Linked DNA regions of Homo sapiens: region 1 is linked to region 2. The links come from fine-mapping of genetic effects on gene expression. A gene starts in region 2. The other region holds a variant in brackets. All regions are shown on one strand. Distances are from middle to middle.

Region 1 (11,585 bases), 48 kb after region 2:
AGTCCCCCAGCACGTCCAAGCTGGTGGGGACCATTTGGAGGAGATGCATTGTATGGGCATCTTTGCTAAACTGCCCTGGAGTCTCACAGGACTCTTTTTTTTTTTTTTTTTTTTTTTTTTTGAGATGGAGTCTCGCTTTGTCACCCAGGTTGGAGCGCGATCTCAGCTCACTACAACCTCCGCCTCCCCAGTTCAAGTGATTCTTCTGCTTCAGCATCCCGAGTAGCTGGGATTACAGGCGCCCACCACCACGCCTAGCAAATTTTTGTATTTTTAGTAGAGACAGGGTTTCACCATGTTGGTCAGGCTGGTCTCGAACTTGTGACCTCAAGTGATCCACCCGCTTTGGCCTCCCAAAGTGCTGGGATTACAGGCATGAGCCACTGCACCCCGCCTCACAGGACTCTTTTTACATTAGAAGAAAGAAATGTTATGTCTTCCTTGCTCAAAGGAAAGAATTGATTCAGAGCAAATCTAAAGGTGTTAAGAGTCAGAATGAAATCTTGGAAAAAAACAGAAATGGCTGATAGTGACTGATTAGAACATGAGACTAATAGGCAGTGTGAATAATGAATTTAGTACATCTGGAAATGTTTTTATCATTTTTCCCTTCCCCTTCTCCATAGAGCTTTTTTTCTGAGAAAGAGGCTTTCTAAATTTGACACCATGAAAAACATTAAGTTCAGAAAATATAACTATAGTTTTTTTTTTGTTTTTTTTTTTTGAGAACGGAGTCTCACTCTGTCGTCCAGGCTGGAATGCAGTGGTGCAATCTCAGCTCACTGCAACCTCCGCCTCTCAGGTTCAAGTGATTCTCCTGCCTCAGCCTCTCAAGTAGCTGAGACTACAAGCACATGCCACCATGCCCGGCCAATTTTTTGTATTTTAGTAGAGACGGGGTTTTCACCGTGTTAGCCAGGATGGTCTCGATCTCCTGACCTCGTGATCTGCTCGCCTCGGCCTCCCAAAGTACTGGGATTACAGGCAAAAGCCACCGTACCCGGCCAACTATAGCTTTTCTAACTATATCTAATATTTACGGCTTCTTCTGTTCTCAAATTTCTGTTGTCTTGAGGAAAAACTCAGAGATGTTAAAATCTTTAAAATTTCACAGCTTATAGCACTATTATTCTCCCCAAATTAAAAACATTAAAAGGAAAACTTAATACTTTAGAAATAATGGCCAATGACACTAAATTGCAACGTATCAAATATTATGAGCAAATCTCGTTACATATAAACATATTTATGTTCCTAAAGATTTAGGTTCCTAAAGATAACCTTTAAACTTATAGAAAGGTTTGTAGATATCTCAATTTCCCCCCACAAATCTCTCACCCCCATCATCATCATGGCTTACCATGTCTAGTCAGGACTTTCCATAATTCCCTGTGTACATGTACTCAGTTCCCCATATAATCATGGGGAAATTCACTCTTGAGGGTTTTGTTTTGCTTTGGTATTAGTCAGGAATAGGAATGGGATGCAAGCTGGGGCCACTGTGTGGCAGGGCCTAAGGCAGTGGGGTGAAAAGACCTCACACTGCCACGTTGCACAGCTTACAGACCTGTGCAAGGAGCCCTGCGCTGGACTGCTTTGCCCACCCCCGCCAAGGATATGCTGCTGCAGGTGGGTGAGAAGGATGTGCCTATTAAGACCAGGAGATTGAAGAAGCAGGCAAAATCACTGCAGGAGGATGTGACCTGGGAACTGGTGGTCCTGCGGAGGATGCTGAAGGAATGGAAGACTGCCTGGGCTCTGAGTGAGTGAAGGGAGGTCCTGTGATACTGTACGTTTGTGAGAAGTGGTTCTCATCTGGGACTAGGCTTTCTCAGTCTTTGAAAAATCCATCCCTCCTTTGTGAAATGTAAAAATCTGGTTGCCTCATTAAGGCTAGACAAGAGCCTTTCACACATTGGGTGTTAGATGAACTTCAGTTAACATATATCTGGGTGCTTTTTGCATGGATGGGTATTACTTCAGTAATTTGTGGAAACTCATTATTACACTGCAGACTCTTCAGAGGCAGAGACCATTTTTTTTTTTTTTTTTTTTTTTTTTTTTGGAGACGTAGTTTCGCTCTTGTTGCCTTGGCTGGAGTGCAACGGTGGGATCTCAGCTTACTGCAACCTCTGCTTCCTGGTTTCAAGTAATTCTCCTGCCTCAGCCTCCTGAGTAGCTAGGATTACAGGCACCCGCCACCACACTTGGTTAACTTTTTGTATCTTTGGTAGAGATGGGGTTTCACCATGTTGGCCAGAGTGGTCTCAAACTCCTGACCTCAGGTGATCTGCCCGCCTTGGCCACCGCGCCAGCCCTTTTTTCTTTTTCTGAGATGGAATTTCACTCTGTTGCCCAGGCCGGAGTGCCATGGCACTTGATTTGGGCTCACTGCAACCTCTACCTCCCAGGTTCAAGCGATTCTCCTGCCTCAGCCTCCCAAGTAGCTGGGACTATAGGCATGTGCCATGATGTCTGGCTAATTTTTGTGTTTTTAGTAGAGACACGGTTTCACCATGTTGGCCAGGCTGGTCTCGAACTCCTGACTTCAGGTGATCTCCCCGCCTTGGCCTCCCAAAGTGCTGGGATTACAAGCATAAGCCACTGCACCCAGGCGACCCTATCTTATTGTTTTCCAAACTTTATGCTCAGCAAATGATGTATGAAGGGAAGAACAAAATATGCTGTCCAACCATTGTCCATGTCATAGTTGACTATGGTATCAGCAACCCCTCTCCAAAATTCATTCGTAGAGTTGGGGCTATCCTATACCTACTTTGCCTTCAAAGATAGGAGAGTAGAAGTCTGAGTGCCTGGGACAAAGTAATGGCCTGGCAAGGACTGTTGAAAGCTATGGTATTTGAGAACTCAATAGCTGCTGGCTTTCAGAACATGATAGACAAGCTTAGTTAGTGCAGGAAAAAGAGAGGCAATCCATTAGGTAAACTGGATCAGATAAACAATAACAAAAAAGACTGAAGGAAACACCTACAGATAATAGGAGCTTTGAAATAAAAGTCTGATACCTGCCAAAAGAGTATTTAGCAACTAAAATGAGGAAGATGTTGAAAGCCAAATGGAAGTGCCCTCAAAGACAAAGAACCTAATGAAAACCACAATAGTTAACATTTATTGAACCTTCATTATCTTGCCAGGCATTTTGCTAAACACTTTGTCTAGTTAACTCATTTAACAGTAAGAATAACTCAATATGTGGGTTCTAGTATTATGCCTGTATTACAAATAAGAAATCTCAGGCTCAGGGTTAAGTAACTTATCCACAGTCACACAGCTAATAACTGTGATCCCAAACCAGGTATGTCTGAAAACAAAGTACTCTTAACTACTTTGTTTTATTGTCACTTTTATTTCCCAGATGGTTACAACGAAAAGTGATTTAAAGAAAGAGAGATAGATACGATGGGGTTGGGAGAAGTTTTGTCTGGGAACTTACTTGTGAGGGTACATGGATCATCAGAGAAATAACTCCCTAAAGACCCCATCTCTGGGCCCTTTATTCTTCTGAGCTAATGTTTTGCTTGAATTATTCTGGGTGAAGGGCAGACTTCTTGTCACCTGCCTGCAGCACAATATCTAACCCTAACCAGGTGGTTCTCTTTTCATTTCCCTCACTGCGGCTCAGTCATAGAGTGGCACCATGAGACAGTAGAGAACCTGCTTCAGAGCTTGGGAGACCTGCATGATGACGTTCGGATCAAAGCTATCACCACATGTGCCACAGCTGCTTTGGAACGGCCCCGGATTGCCACCAGCCAGAGAGACTCAGGTGAGAGCCAAAGCTGAACTGCTTGAGAACATAAGCAACTCATAAAGCCATGGAACATCTGAACTGGTAGGGACCCAGGGCTTATCTGAGATCATTTTACAAATGTGGAAACCAAGACTTAGAGACTGGCCTATATATACATGCTTATCAGCAATAGAGACGAGATTAAAATTCCAGACTTCTAGTCCAGTAATTTTTGAACTACATTTCATCACCTTTTGTTTGCTCAGTGGCCTGCAGAGAAGTTAACATTTCCCACCTTGAAGATCCCATTCTTTTTTGTTTTTGTTTTTGGTAGAGACTGTGTCTTGCTATGTTGACCAGGCTAGTCTTGAACTCCTGGCCTCAAGTAATCCTCCCACCTTAACCTCCCAAACTGCTGGGATTACAGGCGTGAGCCACTGTGCCCAGCCAAGAGCCCATTCTTTTTTATTTTATTTTATTTATTTATTTATTTATTTATTTATTTATTTATTTATTTATTTTTGAGACAGAGTCTTGCTCTGTCACCCAGGCTGGAGTGCAGTGGCGCGATCTCTGCTCACTGCAACCTCCACCTCCCAGGTTCAAGCAATTCTCCTGCCCTAGTCTCCCGAGTAGCTGGGACTACATACAGGCGTGTGCCACCATGCCCAGCTCATTTTTTTGTATTTTTAGTAGAGATGGGGTTTCACCATGTTGGCCAGGCTGGTCTTGAACTCCTGACCTCAAGTGATCCACCCACCTCAGCCTCCCAAAGTGCTGGGATTACAGGCATGAGCCACCGCACCTGACAAAATCTTAAAATATGATTCACGGGCTTAGCTGTGCCACTCCTTGGGCAGTCAGCTAACCTCTCTGAGCTTCAAATTACCTATCTATAAAATGAGACTAGTGGTAGACAAAGGGATAACAAACCTTTCCCCTTCCTACTTGAGAATTTGAACTTCAGTTAAATGCCCACCTGTTCCCCTAAACACCTGATAAGAACTATCTTTATAGGCAACATTGGTTATGATATAAATCCTGTTTGATAAATTACATTGGGACTGAGAAGAGCTATAAGTGAAATATAAATACTTGATAGGGACACCATAGTTTGGGCCTCCCTGGATACTGTAACTTATAACAGGCAGGCCCTTTGTGGACCCTAGAATTGTGTCTATGGAGTTTTTATAAGAGATATTAGTTCCTGTAAAGCATAAATTCACCCAGTGAATAAACAACATGCTCCTGTGCTGTCCCCAAGACTCTGTGGAATGCTCAAGACAGCCTCAAGAACTGCAGCCAAAGCCAGGTGTGGTGGCTCACACTTGTAATTCCAGCACTTTGGAAGGCCAAGGCAGGTGGATCACCTGAAGTCAAGGGTTCAAGACCAGCCTGGCCAACATGGTGAAACCTCATCTCTACCAAAAATACAAAAATTAGCCAGGCGTGGTGACAGGTGCCTGTAGTCCCAGATACTCGGAAGGCTGAGGCAGAAGAATCGCCTGAACCCAGGAAGCAGAAGTTGCAGTGAGCCAAGATTGTGCCATTGTACTCCAGCCTGGGCAACAGAGCAAAAACTCTATCTCAAAAAAAAAACAAAAACAAAAACAAAAAAACTCCAGCCAACAGGGATGCCTGATGCTGCTGCCCTGTTGACAAACTATGCTCCTGTCCCATATTCTTCTGGTGCCATGCATGGCCCATGACAGTCTTATGAACCTTACTGTTTAGTTGAACCAAAAAAGACTCCCTAGTGAGCTCTACAATGATACCTACCTTGCCTAATTCAACCAAGGTTGAAAGATAAC[A/G]AGATAATGTAAAAACACTATATTATAAAGCACTACCTAAATATAATTGTTCTTACAAATATAAAGGCTCAGCTGGGGGCGGTGGCACACGTCTGTAATCCCAGCACTTTGGGAGGCTGAGGCAGGTGGATCACAAGGTCAGGAGATCGAGACCATCCTGGCTAACACGGTGAAATCCCATCTCTACTAAGAATACTAAAAATTAGCTGGGTGCCTGTAGTCCCAGCTACTCGGGAGGCTGAGGCAGGAGAATGGTGTGAACCCAGGAGGCGGAGCTTGCAGTGAGCTGAGATCACACCACTGCACTCCAGCCCAGGTGACAGAACAAGACTCCGTCTCAAAAAATATATAAAATAAATAAATATATATATATATATATATATATATATATATATATATATATATATATATATATATATGGGCTCATGGGGCAAATTGGTTGCTTTTAATCACTAAAACTAATGGTGTAGTTCACTGTAGCCTAGCTGGAAACATTCTTCTTCGGCTTAAATATAGCTGTTTAGAGGCCAGATGATAAAGGATTGGGAATTGGCATACCAGCACACAGGTGAGCTTTAACACCTTGAGCAGAAAATCCTGCCCATCTGAAGGGCTCAGCTAAACTGTAATTATATTACATAGCACTAAGCAACTGCAGCTGGGACTGAGGTTGGCCACCACATGGCTGTAGGAAGGAAGCTGTGTGTGAGAAAAGCAAAGGGGCTAGTACTCTCTTACCTGGCTCTTTTGATCACAGACAAGACCATCCAGGACTTGCCGGAGGTTCTACTGCCTGCCCTAGAGGCTGCTCTTTGTGACAAGAATGCCCATGTGCGGATGGCAGCAGCAATATGCCAATATGCCATACAGTCACATAATCCCCTTGCCCGGAACATCATGCAGACTGCCCTTCTGAAGGGTGAGTAACTCCCTGTTACTTCTGACCTGGAAATATGGGATAGACATCTCACTATCAGCTTTCCCAGTCCTTTCCTCTCCACTGTGATGCTCTGCAATGTCTGCTGTATTGGGTTTAGATTTATGTTAGACCATTTGAAAATTAGGACCAGACACTGTCGCTCACACCTGTAATCCCAGCACTTTGGGAGGCCAAGGCGACAGGATCACCTGAGCATAGGAGTTCTAAACCAGCCTGGGCAACATAACAAGACCCCATCTCTATAAAAAATTTTAAAATTAGCCAGGTGCGGTGGTGTGCTCCTGTAGACCCAGCTACCTAGGAGGCTGAGGCAGACCTATATATACATGCTTATCAGAGTCAGCTTGAGCCCAGGGGGTTGAAGCTGCAATAAGCCACAATGGTGCCACTGTACTCCAACCTGGGTGACAGAGCAAGACCCTGTCTCTAAAAAAAAGGAAAAAAAGAAAATTTGCTCTTTCTAGGTACTTTAACAAAACAGGTACACTGCCACCAAGTGGTAGCTGGACTAAATTTTTTTTTTTTTTTTTTTTTTTTTTGAGACAGAGTTTCACTCTCGTTGCCCAGGCTGGAGTGCAATGGTGGGATCTCAGCTCACACTGCAACCTCCGCCTCCTGGGTTCAAGCAATTCTCCTGCCTCGGCTTCCCAAGTAGCTGGGATTACAGGCGCATGCCACCACGCCTGGCTGATTTTTGTATTTTTAGTAGAGATGGGGTTTTACCATGTTGGCCAGGCTGGTCTTGAACTCCTGACCTTAGGTGATCCGCCCACCTTGGCCTCCCAAAATGTGAGGACTACAGGTGTTAGCCACCGTGCCCAGCCAATATGATTCTTCTCAATATGGTTTAAATAAGAAATTGTATTTCTAGACTGAGTGGGGCACAAGGAAGTGAGATATCAGGTGGGGTAGCAGCCTTGGGTATCAATCCAAAGGCTGTTCTCTAGGGGGAAAACACATCACCATTCTGAACTCTTTTTCACCCAACTGTGGCAGGTAACAGTGTGGATAGCTGGGCTGCAGCTCAGTGCTTGGCTCTGGAAGGTACTGCTACTTACCCTGTGATTAAGAGGATCCTCCACCAGCTGTTTACAAAGAAGAATGAGGACACTGAGGAACAGTCTTATATCCTCCTGAGCTATCTGAGTGAGAAGACAGTATGTGTCCATTACCGGGTCAGACACAGTTTTGGGGAGCAATTAGGTCTTTGAGGTCAGTGAATGTAAGCAATCTGAAATGCAGCTGGGGCCGGGGCAGTGGCTTATGCCTGTAATCCCAACACTTCGGGAGGCCGAGGCAGGTGGATCACTTGAGGTCAGGAGTTCGAGACCAGACTGGCCAACATGGGTGAAACCTCATCTCTACTAAAAATAAAAAAATTAGACAGGTGCAGTGGTACCACACTGAGTAGTCCCAGCTACTCGGGAGGCTGAGGCATGAAAATCACTTCAGCCTGGGAGGTGAAGGTTGCAGTGAGCTGAGATCACGCCACTACACTCCAGCCTAGGTGACAGAGCAAGACTCTGTCTCAAACAAATAAAATAAAATGCAGCTGGGCTGGGCATGGTCGCTCACGCCTGTAATCCCAGCACTTTGGGAGGCTGAGGTGGGAGTATCCCTTGAGTCCAGGATTTCAAGACCAGCCTGGGCAATATAGTGAGACCCTGTCTCTACAAAAAAAGAAATAAAATTAGTCAGGCATGGTGGTATGTGCCTGTAATCCTAGCTACTCAAGAGGCTGAGGTGGGAGGATCACTTGAGCCTGGCAGGTTGGGGCTGCAGCGAGCTGAGATCACACCACTGTACTCCAGCCTGAGCGACAGAGCAAGACCCTGCCTCAAAAAATTAATTACACAATTAATTAATTAGATAAAATGCAGCCGGTTGGGTTGACAATCTCAAGCATAAGTAAACGTAGAATAAGCATGAGTAAACCTGGGTGTAGAGGTGTATACAAAGGGAAGTCACAATAGTTAGCTGAGAGAAAAGTGAGAATTAGGTTGCAAATGGTCTCTATTTGCATATGCAAGAAGAGTTCTGACATGTAGAATTTGCTTCTGCTAGAAGTTTACCATTGAAAACTGCAGAGGCCTATATTTGTGTTTAGTTACTTTCAATAGAAATGTGAAAGTCATAAGCTTGAGGCATATAAAAATCATTTTAGGGGTAAAAACAGTTAAAGACAGAAGGCCGGGCACGGTGGCTCACGCCTGTAATCCCAGCACTTTGGGAGGCCGAGGCAGGCAGATCACCTGAGGTCAGGAATTCAAGACCAGCCTGGCACCAACATGGTAAAACCCCGCCTCTACTAAAAATACAAAAATTAACCGGGCGTGGTGGCAGGCGCCTGTAATCCCAGCTACTTGGGAGGCTGAGGCAACAGAATCACTTGAACCCGAGAGGCGGAGGTTGCAGTGAGCCGAGATTGTGCCACTGCACTCCAGCCTGGGGGACAACCTTCTCAGAAAAAAAAAAAAAAAAAAAAACAGTTAAAGTCAGGAAAGGAAGGTCCCAGTTTTCTGTTTAAGTTATTAAATTTGTATTTTGTTCCCCAATTTATGATCCCAGAGTCAGTTGGCTGTGATGGAAACATGCCCCATCTCTTGTAAGCCCACTGGTGACATTAATTATGCAGGATGCCATTTCAGAATGTAACTTCAAGGTTCTAGTATCTCTAAAAGTGATTGTGAATATCCATACAAGTCTTCCATTTCCTCAGACCCTGATACACACCATGCTTGCTGTGGAGCTGAACAGCTGTCAATGGAAGAACCGGATTGTGGCCTGCCAGGCTTTCTCCCGGATCAGTGGAAATGTCTGCTTGGTAAACCTCTTTCTTTGCCTCCAGGACAGAAAGCCTAAGAGAGGCTGAGCTACAGAGGCCTTCTACTTTTTGCTGCTATGTATTATTCCATTCTTACCAAACAGATCTCTGTTCCCACATCACTACTTCTTACTTCTAGCCCAGAATTATCTTCAAATGCTAATATGTCTGTCTGGAAGCCAATGCTTCTCAGTGCACTGGTGGTCCATAAACTGTTGGTAACTGATCCACAATGAAATAGCACAAAAACTGACAGGAGTTTAGAAACGTTTATAGTAGGCCGGGTGCGGTGGCTCACATCTGTAATCCCAGCACTTGGGGAGGCCAAGGCAGGCGGATCACGAGGTCAGGAGTTGGAGACCAGCCTGACCAACATGGTGAAACTCCATCTCTACTAAAAATACAAAAATTAGCAGAGTGTGGTGGCACGCGCCTATAATCCCTGCTACTTGGGAGGCTGAGGCAGGAGAATCGCTTGAACCCAGGAGGCAGAGGTTGCAGTGAACCAAGATCTCACCACTGCTCTCTAGCCTGGGTGACAGAGGGAGACTCCATCTCAAAAAAAAAAAAAAAAAAGAAACGTTTATAGTAATTTGATATTGCCTCAATATCAACAGACTTTATCAGTCAATGACATATTTCCCCCCCGCCAAAATTGGTTCTTCATCAAAGATCATTCGAGAAGCACTGACTTAGACTACCCAAAAACCCATCTAAATGAGTGTCTGTGCTGCTTCTCAGAGTGTTCGGCACACACATATAAAACATAGTCCCGGCCGGGCACGGTGGCTCACACCTGTAATGCCAGCACTTTGGGAGGCCAAGGCAGGTGGATCAGAGCTCAGGAGTTTCAGACCAGCCTGGCCAACATAGTGAAATCCTATCTGTACTAAAATACAAAAATTAGCCAGGTGTGGTGGCTGGCACCTGTAATCCTAGCTACTTGGAAGGCTGAGGCACAAGAATTGCTTGAACCTGGGAGGGAGAGGTTGCAGTGAGCCGAGATCGCACCACTGCACTCCAGCCTGGGCGACAGTGCGAGACTCTGTCTCAAAAAACAAAACAAAAAAAAACAAAACAAAAAAACCATTGTCCCAACTTTCACAAAATTAACACTATGGTAGGAACAATAAGACTAATATACACAAATGATTCAAGAACAAGCAATAAATATAAGGTACCCTTTTAAAACTTTTCAGAGAGAGAGAGATTAGTGTGGGTTAAATTTATTGGTTAAAGTTCTGTGAAGGGGTCCGGTACGGTGGCTCATGCCTGTAAGCCCAGCACCTTGGGAGGCTGAGGCGGGTGGATCACTTGAGACCAGGAGGTTGAAACCAGCCTGGTCATCATGGCAAAACCCCATCTCTAATTAGCTGGGCATGGTGGCACACACCTGTCATCCCAGCTACTTGGAGGCTGAGGCAGGAGAATCGCTTAAACCTGGGAGGCGGCGGTTTCAGTGAGCCAAGATCGTGCCACTGCACTCCAGCCTGGGCGACAGAGCGAGACTCCATCTAAAAAAAAAAACAAACCAACTGTCGGTGAAGATGGTGGGGCTCAGCTAGAACTAAAGAGGGAATTCCAGGCAACACTTCGTTTTTGCCATTATTTCCCAATCATCTTCAGCTGTCCAAATGGGAGCTTTCCCTTCTTCCTATGTGCTACTTCATCTTTTCCTTATAACTTTGGATATCTCCAGAATAGCCCAGAACATTGCCATTCCCATGATAAGTGAACAACCTCCACTCTGTAACCCTGACATTTTGATATGGGAAGCACAAAATCTGGCCACTCAGTACAGTAATCACCTGAAAAGGTTTTGGACTTGGGTTAGTTCTGTCTCAAGTGCTATAGCACCCTGCTGCTAAAGTCCTGGACCAGCAGCACAGGCGTCACCTAGGAGCATTATTAGAAATGCAAAAATCGGCCGGGCACAGTGGCTCGCACCTGTAATCCCAGCACTTTGGGAGGCCAAGGAGGGCGGATCACGAGGTCAGGAGATCGAGACCATCCTGGCTAACACGGTGAAACCCTGTCTCTACTAAAAATAAAAAAAATTAGGCGGGTGTGGTGGCAGGCACCTGTAGTCCCAGCTCCTCGGGAGGCTGAGGCAGGAGAATGGCGTGATCCCAGGAGGTGGAGGTTGCAGTGAGTTGAGATCGCACCACTGCGCCCCAGCCTGGGCAACAGAGCGAGGCTCCGTCTCAAAAAAAAAAAAAAAATTAGCCAGGCTTGGTGGCACATGCCCATAATCCCAGC
Region 2 (10,428 bases):
TTATCTCAACGGCACAAGACAGACATTCCCAGAGCGGCCGTTTATAGACCTCCCGCCAGGAATGCATTCCTTTCCCAGGGTATTAATATTAATATTCCTTACTAGGAAAATAATTTAGTGATATCTCTCCTACTTGCACGTCCGTTTGTAGGCTCTCTGCAAGAAGAAAAATATGGCTCTTTTGGCCCGACTCCGCAGGCTGTCAGACCTTATGGTTGTCTTCCCTTGTTCCATAAAAATCGCTGTTATTCTGTTCTTTTTCAAGGTGCACTGATTTCGTATTGTTCAAACACATGTTTTACAATCAATTTGTACAGTTAACACAATTATCACAGTGGTCCTGAGGTTATGTACATCCTCAGCTTACGAACATAACAGGATTAAGATATTAAAGACAGGCATAAGAAATTATAAAAGTATTATTTGGGAACTGATAAATGTCCATATTAAGATGAAATCTTCACAATTTATGTTCCTCTGCCGCGGCTCCAGCCGGTCCCTCCATTCGGGGTCCTTGACTTCCCACAACATTAAACAATAACTCCTTATTCCCCACTGCCACCAGCCCCTGGCAACCACTATTCCACTTCCTGTCTCTGAATTTGACTACTTTAGGTACCTCATAAAGTGTAATTATACAGTATTTGGCCCTTCATCTCTGGCTTATTTTGCTTAGCATATTGTCTTCAAGGCTCATCCATATATTTACAGCATATCATAACTTCACTCTCCCCAGGAATTTTGCTCTGTCACCCAGGCTCTGGAGTGCAGTGGCAAGATCACAGTTCACTGCAGTCTCAACACCCAGGTGCAAGCAATCCTCCCATCTCAGTCTCCCCAGTAGCTGGGACGACAAGCACGTGCCACCTCACCTGGATACTTTTTAAGTTTTTTGTAGAGATGGGGGTCTCACTTTGTTGCCCAGTCTGGTCTTGAACTTCTACATTCAAGCAATCTTCCTACCTCGGCCTCCCAAAGTGCTGGGATCATAGGCATGAGCCACCTCACACAGCCATTTCATTCATTTTTTTTGAGACAGAGTTTCACTCTTGTTGCCCGGCTGGGGTGGAGTGGTGCAATCTTGCTTGGCTCACTGCAACCTCCTGGGTTCAAGTGATTTCCTGCCTCAGCCTCCCCAGTAGCTGGGACTACAGGTGTGTGCCACCATGCCCAGCTAATTTTTGTATTTTTAGTAGAGACGGGGTTTACTGTGTTGGCCAAGCTGGTCTCGAACTCCTGACCTTGAGTAATCTGTCCGCCTCAGGCTCCCAAAGTGCTGGGATTATAGGCGTGAGCCACTGCACCTGGCCCATTTCATTCCTTTTTCTTTTTTTTTCTTTCTTTTTTTTTGAGATAAACTCTCGCTCTGTCGCCCGGGCTGGACCACAATGGCGAGATCTTGGCTCACTGCAACCTCTGCCTCCTGGGTTCAAGAGATTCTCCTGCCTCGGTCTCCTGAGTAGCTGGGATTACAGGCGCCTGCCACTACGCCTGGCTAATTTTTGTATTTTTAGTAGAGATGGAGTTTCACCATGTTGACCAGGCTGGTCTTGAACTTTTGACCTCAGGTGATCCACCCTCCTCGGCCTCCCAAAGTGCTGGGATTACAGGCCTGAGCCACCACGCCCAGCCCATTTCATTCCTTTTTAAGGCTGAATAACATTCTGTTGTATGTATCTTCCACATTTTGTTTATCCATTCATTCACTGATGGACATTTGGGTTCTTTCCACCGTTTGGCTATTGTGAGTATGCTGCTATGAACATGGGTATACAAATATCTGTTAAAGTCCCTGCTTTCAATTCTTTTGGATATGTACCCAGAAGTAGAATTGCTGGATCACATAGTAATTCTATATTTAATTTTTTGAGGAACCTTCAACAGGGTTTTGATTTATTAGAAACAGGGTCTCCCTCTGTCACTGAGGCTGGGGTGCAGTAGTGCCATCATAGCTCACTGCAGCCTCAAACTCCTGGGCTCAAATGATCCTCCTGCCTTAGCAGGGTTATAATGTTTAATTTTTTTAGTATTTAATTTTCTTTTTTTTTTTTTTTGAGATGGAGTCTTGCTCTGTCGCCCAGGCTGGAGTGCAGTGGCCCAATCTCGGCTCACTGCAAGCTCCGCCTCCCGGGTTCATGCCATTCTCCTGCCTCAGCCTCCAAGTAGCTGGGACTACAGGCGCCTGCCACCACGCCTGGCTAATTTTTTTGTATTTTTAGTAGAGATGGGGTTTCACCGTGTTACCCAGGATGGTTTAAATCTCCTGACCTCGTGATCCGCCCAACTTGCCTCCCAAAGTGCTGGGATTATGGGCGTGAGCCACAGCGCCTGGCTCAGTCTTTACTTTTCATAACAGAAAACGTACCCTCTGCTTTTTATGGGGGTCTAACCATCTGAGTGCAGCTTGAGCTCAAGTGCTAAAGTCCATATTCAGGTTGGTCAGCAGCAGCAGTCTTGCTTGGAACCAAGAGATGGACCACCTGAATAGCATGACCTGGGTCAACGAGACAGAGCCTTAGGCCCAGAAATCTTTCCTGCTGTCAGGATAAATTAGTTTGTTTCACAAAGGGACTCTTGAAGATCAGAATTTCTGTATCTGTAAGACTTCTATGACTTAAAGAATTTCTGTACGTGTGAAATTATACTATTAGAAATACAAGATTGAAGAGTCTCCTTGTAAAAGCTAGTGTTAATGGCTAATAATCTAGCCAGGATTTAGAGATCAGGGAAAATGGGATTGAACTGTGTGGGCAAAGGAGATTAAGTAGCAGTGGAGGAGCTGAAAGGGGAATGGAAAAGTCGACGGACAGCTTCTACTTTACCATCTGTTTTATCAGCCTGGTAATCTGACGCCTGCCAGAACTATGTGGTCATGTGTTCCCTGCTTTGCCTCTTTCTCAGGATTTATAAACCCTTGTGGTGGGAGAATATGGAGCTGCATATATCTAGAGGGTTTTTTTATTTTTATCTTTTGAGACTGCACTTCACTCTTGCTGCCCAGGCTGGAGTGCAATGGCCTGATCTTGGCTCACTGCAACCTCTGCTTCCTGGGTCCAAGCGATTCTCCTGCCTCAGCCTCCCGAGTAGCTGGGATTACAGGCATGCGCCACCAGGCCCAGGTGATTTTCTTTTTAAATTTTCTATTTTTAGTAGAGATGGGGTTTCACCATGTTGGTCAGGCTGGTCTCTAACTCCTGACCTCAGGTGATCCGCCACCTCAGCCTCCCAAAGCGCTGAAATTGCAGGCGTGAGCCATCGCGCCTGGCTGAGGTTTATTTTTCAAAGAATGACCAAGAGGCTAGGTGTGGTGGCTCACAGTTGCAAATCCCAGCACTTTGGGAGGCCAAGGCGGACACATCACTTGAGGTCAGGAGTTTGAGAACAGCCTGTCCAACATGGTGAAACCCCATCTCTACTAAAAGTACAATTAGTGGGGCATGGTGGTGTGGCCTGTAATGGGAGGCTGAGACAGGAGAATTGCTTGAACCTGGGAGGCACAGGTTGCAGTGAGCCGAGATCGCACCACTGCACTCCAGCCTAGGCAACTGAGTGAGACTGTCTCAAAAAAGAAAAAAGACCAAAAACTCCATGAAACTACCATTCAATAAATAATCAATAAATAAGATGCAATTTCTCAAAGCTCAGTTTACAAAGAAGGAAATTTAATAAATGGTTGAAGATATACCCCCGACTGAACCCACAAGTTCTCTGAGTAGACTCATGGAATTCTAAAGAGTTGGTTGCTTGGAGACTGATAGAAACAGCTTTGGAACCTAAGAAACCAAGGAAGGCTTAAGATGCAGAACCTTGCTTCTCTCTGAGGACTGCCTTTTAGGAGGCCATTTGGAAAGTAATTTTGAAACACTGCTCCTTTGCCAGTATCTGAAAGGTGCTGGATGGTGTCAGCTGGAAGATGAGGGGCAACCTGAGGTAGCTGAAAAAACTTTGGATTAGGTGTCAAAAGGGTCAGTACTACTTTAGATACCAAGCAGTATGGTGATCTTAATGATTTCTCTTCTCTCTGGGCCCCAGTTTTGGGATTTATAAAATCAGGACATTAGGCCTGGTGCAGTGGCTCATGCCTGTATTCCCAGCATTTTGGGAGGCCAAGGTGGGAGGACTGTTTGAGTCCAGGAGTTCAAGACCAGCCTGAGCAACATAGTGAGACTCTATCTCTACAAAAAAAAAAAAAAAAAAAAAAATTTAACCGAGAGTGGTGTGCTATGTGCCTATGCTCCCAGCTATGTGGGAGGATTGCTTGAGCCCAGGAGGTCAAGGCTGCAGTGAGTCATGATCACGCCACTGTACTCCAGGAGAGTGAGACCCTGTCTCAAAAAAAAAAAAACAAATCAAGGCATTAGACCAGGTCATCTTTATAGCAGAGTTTCCAGAGTAATCTCTGGAGATAGCTGTATAGCTGTGTGAGTGCATGGTAAAAAATTAGAAAGTAGAGGGGAAAAAATGAGGGGAACTTTTTGAGGGCAAAAAGGGAGAAAGGGGGACTTGAAACAAGCCAGGTTAAGCAGCTGTTCCCTAATCCCACTCTCCCCACTAACCAGGCTTCCTTCATACACCCCACTGACACCCTTTGGGCTGTGCTTTCTTTAAATGTATTGTGTATTAAACCTGAGAGCTTGTGAAAATGCAGATTTCTAGGCCTCACTTGCAGGCTACTGAATCAGCATTCTGGGAGTAGGACACAAGAGTCTGATGTAAAAGGTTCTTTACCCATATCTATTCCAGGCATAGTCCCAGCATTTCTGGAGGCCAAGGCAGGAAGATCACTTGATTCCAGGAGTTTGAAACCAGCCTGGACAACATAGTAAGACCCTGTCTCTACAAAAAAAAGTTTTAAAACATTAGCCAGGCATGGTGGTGCACACCTGTGGTCCCAGCTACTGGGGACGCTGAGGCAGGAGGATTGCTTGAGCCTGGGAGGCAAGGCTGCAGTGAGCCATGACTGTGCCACCGCACTCCAGCTTGGGTGACAGAGTGAGGCCCTGTCTCAAACATAAATAAATAAACAAAAAACTGTATCTAACAAACACCACCCCAGAAGCTGACTGCACACTCTTGGACTCCACCTCAGAACTTCAGAATCCAAATCTGTTGGTAGAGATGAGAGTATTATTTTTTTAAAGCTTTCAGAAGATACTGATACTAAGGCTTATTGCTTTTTAGTCTTTTCTTTCAAGGCAGTTTCCTCTATTTTAATAACAAGGGAGAATGCAAGATATTACTCCTTTTAGCACATGTTACTCAACCTACTTTGACCACTTGTACAGGATAAAGGTATCAGACCAGAGGGTGAGGGTAAGCGACTGATAAGCAAACAGAAAAGTGGAACTAAATTTGGAATCTCTGAGATACTACCCAGTTTGAGTTGAGTTCTGTATTCATAAAATATTAGAGGCAGGAGAGGAATTTAGTCCAACTCCTACGTTTTCCAGCTGGGGATCTAGGAAGTTCATCAGGTTTTAACTAGAGGCATGTGGCCTAACCCTTCCAACCCCATTCCTCCCCTTCTAGCCCAAGTTCCTAGAAATGCAGATAATGCTGGTGGGTTGCTCATTCCAGGGCCTGGTCTGCAGTTATGCCAGGATTGACTTAGTCAATTTTTTATGCTGTCTATGTACAAAAGGACCCCGGACCTGCCACTCTGCTTTTGGTTCTAGAGGGCTATTTGTTGGGAGTGGGGTGCTGCCTCATAATGCTGGTCACGTAATGTGTAAGTTTCGATAATAAGGAGCCTCCAAACTCCATTAATAAGTCCTTTCTTTCTTCTCTAAGCACCCTCTCTTTTAATTGCTGAGTACCCCATAGCCCTAAATTCTTCCCGAAGCGCCCAGTGCATCTAACTGTAGGACCCAGAGACTTGCCTTCTAAGGACAACAGTCCATCCTCTAAACTAATAATAACAATTCCTCACACATATATTTTAGTTTGCAAAGAACTTTCATACGTTTCTAATTTTGAGGTTCATATCAATCAACACTAAATTAGAACAGGTATCAGACTCAATTTTCAGATTGGGAAACTACAGATTTCAAATTATTTGCCCAAGGTAACATGACTGGGAAGTGCACAATTTGGCCTTACACCTGTCCCGTGACTCCAAGACAGACAAAGACAAGCCAGAACAAGCCTCTTTTGATCAGACCTTGTGTAACATTTTGTTCTGTCCCCATTCCTTTTCAAAACAGACCTATCATGTGTTCCCTTCCTTCTTAATAAGCCATCATATCGGATGATAATAACTATTCCTTAAGTTTTTTTTGTTTTTTTTTTTTGAGAAGAAGTTTCACTCTTGTCACCCAGCCTGGAGTGCACTGGTGTGATCTTGGCTCACTGCAACCTCCGCCTCCTGGGTTCAAGCGATTCTCCTGCCTCAGCCTCCTGAGTAGCTGGGATTACGGGTGCCTGCCACCATGCCTGGCTAATTTTTTGTATTTTTAGTAGAGATGGGGTTTCGCCATGTTGGCCATGCTGCTCTTGAACTGCTGACCTCTGGTGATCTGCCTGCCTCAGCCTCCCAAAGTGTTGGGATTACAGGCGTGAGCCACCGCACCCAGCCTCCTTAAGAATTTCTAATAATTGATAATGGTAATATGGTATTCTTTCTGGGATGTTTGCATTGTAACTAAAGATTCTTTATGTCAAAGGCTAAAGGGCATTTATCTGCGGACACCCTAAATCACTCCTTTTTTTTTGAGATAGAGTTTTGCTCTTGTTATCCAGGCTGGAGTGCGGTGGCACGATCTCGGCTCGCTGCAACCTCTGCTTGTCAGGTTCAAGCAACTCTCCTGCCTCAGCCTCCCAAGTAGCTGGGATTACAGGTGTGTGCCACCATGCCTGGCTAATTTTGTATTTTTAGTAGAGATGGGGTTTCTCCATGTTGATCAGGCTGGCTGGTCTCGAACTCCTGACCTTGGGTGATCCACCCGCCTCAGCCTCCCAAAGTGCTGGGATTACAGGCGTGAGCCACCCACCTAGCCAATCACTCCTTATAGGTAGTCATCTGGGGATGAAATGAGTCCTCATCCCATTTTTCAACTGTTTAGGATCAAATTGCCCCCTGCCTTAGAAGCAAGATGTGGACACACTGATGTGTTAGGAATGTAAAATGTTTTAGAAGAATATGCAAGGCAGGAGAATATTAATGTTCTTTTCATTTGACCATTCATACTCAACCAGTGAGGAACTCCTCTTAACAAGAATCTTATAAGACAGGTCTGATGTCAAAATCTCTCACTTTTTTTTTTTTAACTAAGAATATCCTTATTTCTCTTTCATGTTTGAAGGCTGTTTTTGCTGAATATAATATTCTAGATTGGAAGTTTTTTTGCTTCAGCACTTTGTCACCCCACTCTCTGCTTGTAAAGTTTCTGCTGAGAAGTCTGCTACCAGCCATATTGGAGCTCCTTTATGATGTTATTAATATGTCCTTCTTTTCTCTTGCTGCTTTTAGGATCCTTTTTTAGCCTTGACCTTTGAGAGTTTGATTATTATATGCCTTGAGGTAGTCTTATTGAGGCTGAGTTGGCTTGGTGTTTTATGACCTTCTTATACCTGTATATTCATATCTTTCTCTAGTTTTAGAAAGTTCTCTGTTACTATTTCTTTAAATAAATTTTTACATTGATCTCTCCCTCTACATTCTTTTTTTTTAGTTTAATCATTTTTATTTCAAGTTTATTTAAAAAATCATAAATGGGGTTTCATAATCCAAAGTTGAAACATTTATTCTTCATAGCTTCAGAATTTGACAAGCAATTGTAGACCATGCTTTCCAAATCCAGTCTTCTTTGCTATTTTTCAAATTTCTGAGATCTAGTATTAAACTGCTCCATTCTAAACGTATAGTTTCAGATAAGTATTGTACACTTGTTGATAAGGGTTTTCTGAAAACAGTCTATCAAATATAAAGAATGGTTTCTATCTAAGAATCAGCAGTGAGGGAAGAAATATCAAACACCTATCAAGAAATCAATTATTCATTTTAAAAGTAGCAGAACCAGTGCTGCTCTCTGTCATAAAGGAGAACATGTAAAATTTATTTTTATAGACTTTGGTAATATTTTATTCCCCACAGAGGCCTTCAATCCTACTTAAAGATATTTTACACATAGTAACCATCAGGATTTACTGAGTAAAAATCTCAGGTATTAACCATGCCCCTAAAATGTGCTATTCCAAAGAGGAACAGGTTACTTTTGAGGAAAAAAGCTGCCTTGGTAACTTACCTCAAATATTTATTTCAAATAAAAATAGTTGATGGAAATATTTTTTAAACGAACTTTGGGTATAATATGGCATACTGCCCATCAAACAAAAAAGGAAATCAAAACTTTCTTTCCATTTATAATAAGTTTTCCACTTTTACTATCAAGATTACAACTTATTGACCTTTTATGCTTGCTTGGTTTTTTTGACTGCCTAATCCAATATCTCGGCTCACTGCAACCACTGCCTCTCTGGTTCAAGCGCTTCTCCTGCCTCTGTCTCCTGAGTAGCTGGGATTACAGGCCCCCACCACCATGCCTGCTAATTTTTTTTATTTTTCATAGAAACAGGGTTTTACCATGTTGGGCAGGCTGGTCTCCAACTCCTGGTCTCTAGTGATCTGCCTGCCTTGGGCTCCCGAAGTGCCGTGATTACATGAGTAAGCCACCATGCCCAGCTGGCTAATTCTTTTGTGTACAGATTAAAGCAGAGGGGAACCTCATTGTCATGATAATTAAAGATCAAAACTGGCATGTTTGGGAAATTGGCTGTTATTTCTCTCCTGATTTCTCAGAAGGCCAGGTAACACTTCAGTTTAGGTTGGGTGAAACTTTAGCACAGGTGACGCCATTTTGGTTTTTAGTCTTGTCTATTGGGGCCTAGTGCTAGAGCCTAGTCCAAAACAATGGCCTTAGCGGGGCATGCTAGTGCATGCCTGTAATCCCAGCTACTAGGGAGGCTGAGGCACAAGAATTGCTTGAACCTGGGAGGCAGAGGTTGCAGTGTGCCAAGATTGCGCTGCTGCACTCCAGCCTGGGGGACAGAGCAAGACTCTATCTCAAAAACAAAACAAAAAAAAAGCAAAACAATAGTCTCCTATACTTTTTTTCATTCCCTTCAAGTGTATCCTCCACAGCAATAATTTTTATTTAACAAACCTAATACCCAATGTGATAATACTTTTTTATTTTAATTTTTTTTGGAGATCTAGTCCTGTTCAGTTGCCTAGGCTGGAGTGCAGTGGCGCGATCCCGGCTCACTGGACCTCTACCTTCTGGGTTCCAAGTGATTCTCCTGCCTCAGCCTCCCCCGTAGCTGGGATTACAGGCGAGTGCTACCAAGCCCAGCTAATTATTTTTTGGATTTTTAGTAGAGATGGGGTCTCACCATGTTGCCCAGGCTGGTCTTGAACTCCTGAGCCCAGGTAATCCGCCCACCTCAGCCTCCCAAAGTGCTGGGATTACAGGTGTGAGCCACCATGCCCAGCCTCAATGCGATAGTATTAAAAAGTGGGGACTTGGCACCTGGGGGAGAAGAAGGGGAGGCACAGGACCCCAGAAAGTGTCCTGAGCAGGAGGCTTGTGTCCTTCGGGGTGGGGCACCAGCCCTGGTGCTGACCTGTCCTTGCCCTGACCTAGGCCTGTCCTGCTGGGCCAGGCAGGGGCTATGGCAGATGAGCGAGACAAGGTGGCCAGGCCGTGAGCCAGGAACAGTGGGAGTCAGGAATGCCGAATAGTGTGTGCTTGGGTCGGGGAAACCCTGGATAGGACCCATGGGGGATGGAAGGGAGCTGGTGGGGGAGCTGCCCACACAGACAGGCCTGGGTGGCACCCAAGAGGTGTAGGGGTCAGGGGCCTCAGACTCATGGCATAAGACAGGCATGAGGTGTTGGGGGTCTGGGTGAGGGGGTTGACAAACTGCCAGGCTGGAGCAGCGGGTTATCTGGAGGGCCCAAGGTGTTGTGGGATCAGGAAGTGGGGGACACTGGAGTGTTTATGGGGTGCTAGAATAGCTGTGGGATGCACTGGTCTAAGTTGGGGTTGACAGTGGTTGGGACATGGGGAGGTTGATTTGTGTCGGCACAGGGGATTGTGGGAATGGGGGCTGGTAGGGTCTCAAAAAATGGGGCCCAAGCTCAGAAGGAGAAGGCAAATGAGGATTAGGGAGGGGATGCTGTAGTTTAGAATGAAGCCTCTGCCTCCTCTGAGCTTGGAGCCTGGGAAAGGGGCCAGGGTGGGTTTATGATGGTACAGGCAGTGCTGGGGGCTCCCAACAGGCCCCGGGCAAGGAAGAGGCTGCAGAATGCCCACTCTGCTGTTACAGACCAATTACACTGAGACAGCAGGGTTTGCAGCACAGAAAGAGCTTCATGATCACAGGGCACCTAGCAAGGAGATGGGAGGAGACCCTCAAATCCATCTCCTT

What was found. PIP is the estimated chance that this variant, and not a neighbour inherited with it, causes the effect.
Region 1: its variant is fine-mapped to the expression of HEATR4 in nasal epithelium (TOPMed, PIP 0.93).

Annotation. Positions count from the first base shown.
Region 1 is chr14:73,504,208-73,515,792 of GRCh38, reverse strand. It overlaps HEATR4 (HEAT repeat containing 4), which reads left to right. Exons shown (of 18, transcript NM_001220484.1): 6 at 1,559-1,762; 7 at 3,644-3,787; 8 at 6,320-6,481; 9 at 7,499-7,659; 10 at 9,222-9,326. It also overlaps a transcript of ACOT1 not described here. Among named protein-coding and RNA genes, the nearest start is that of RIOX1, 19 kb to the right of the region's middle. The variant A/G (reference allele first, on the strand shown) is at 5,563.
Region 2 is chr14:73,552,288-73,562,715 of GRCh38, reverse strand. HEATR4 (HEAT repeat containing 4) reads left to right here and starts at 3,769. Exons shown (of 18, transcript NM_001220484.1): 1 at 3,769-3,965. RefSeq lists enhancers at 2,768-2,937, 8,434-8,946.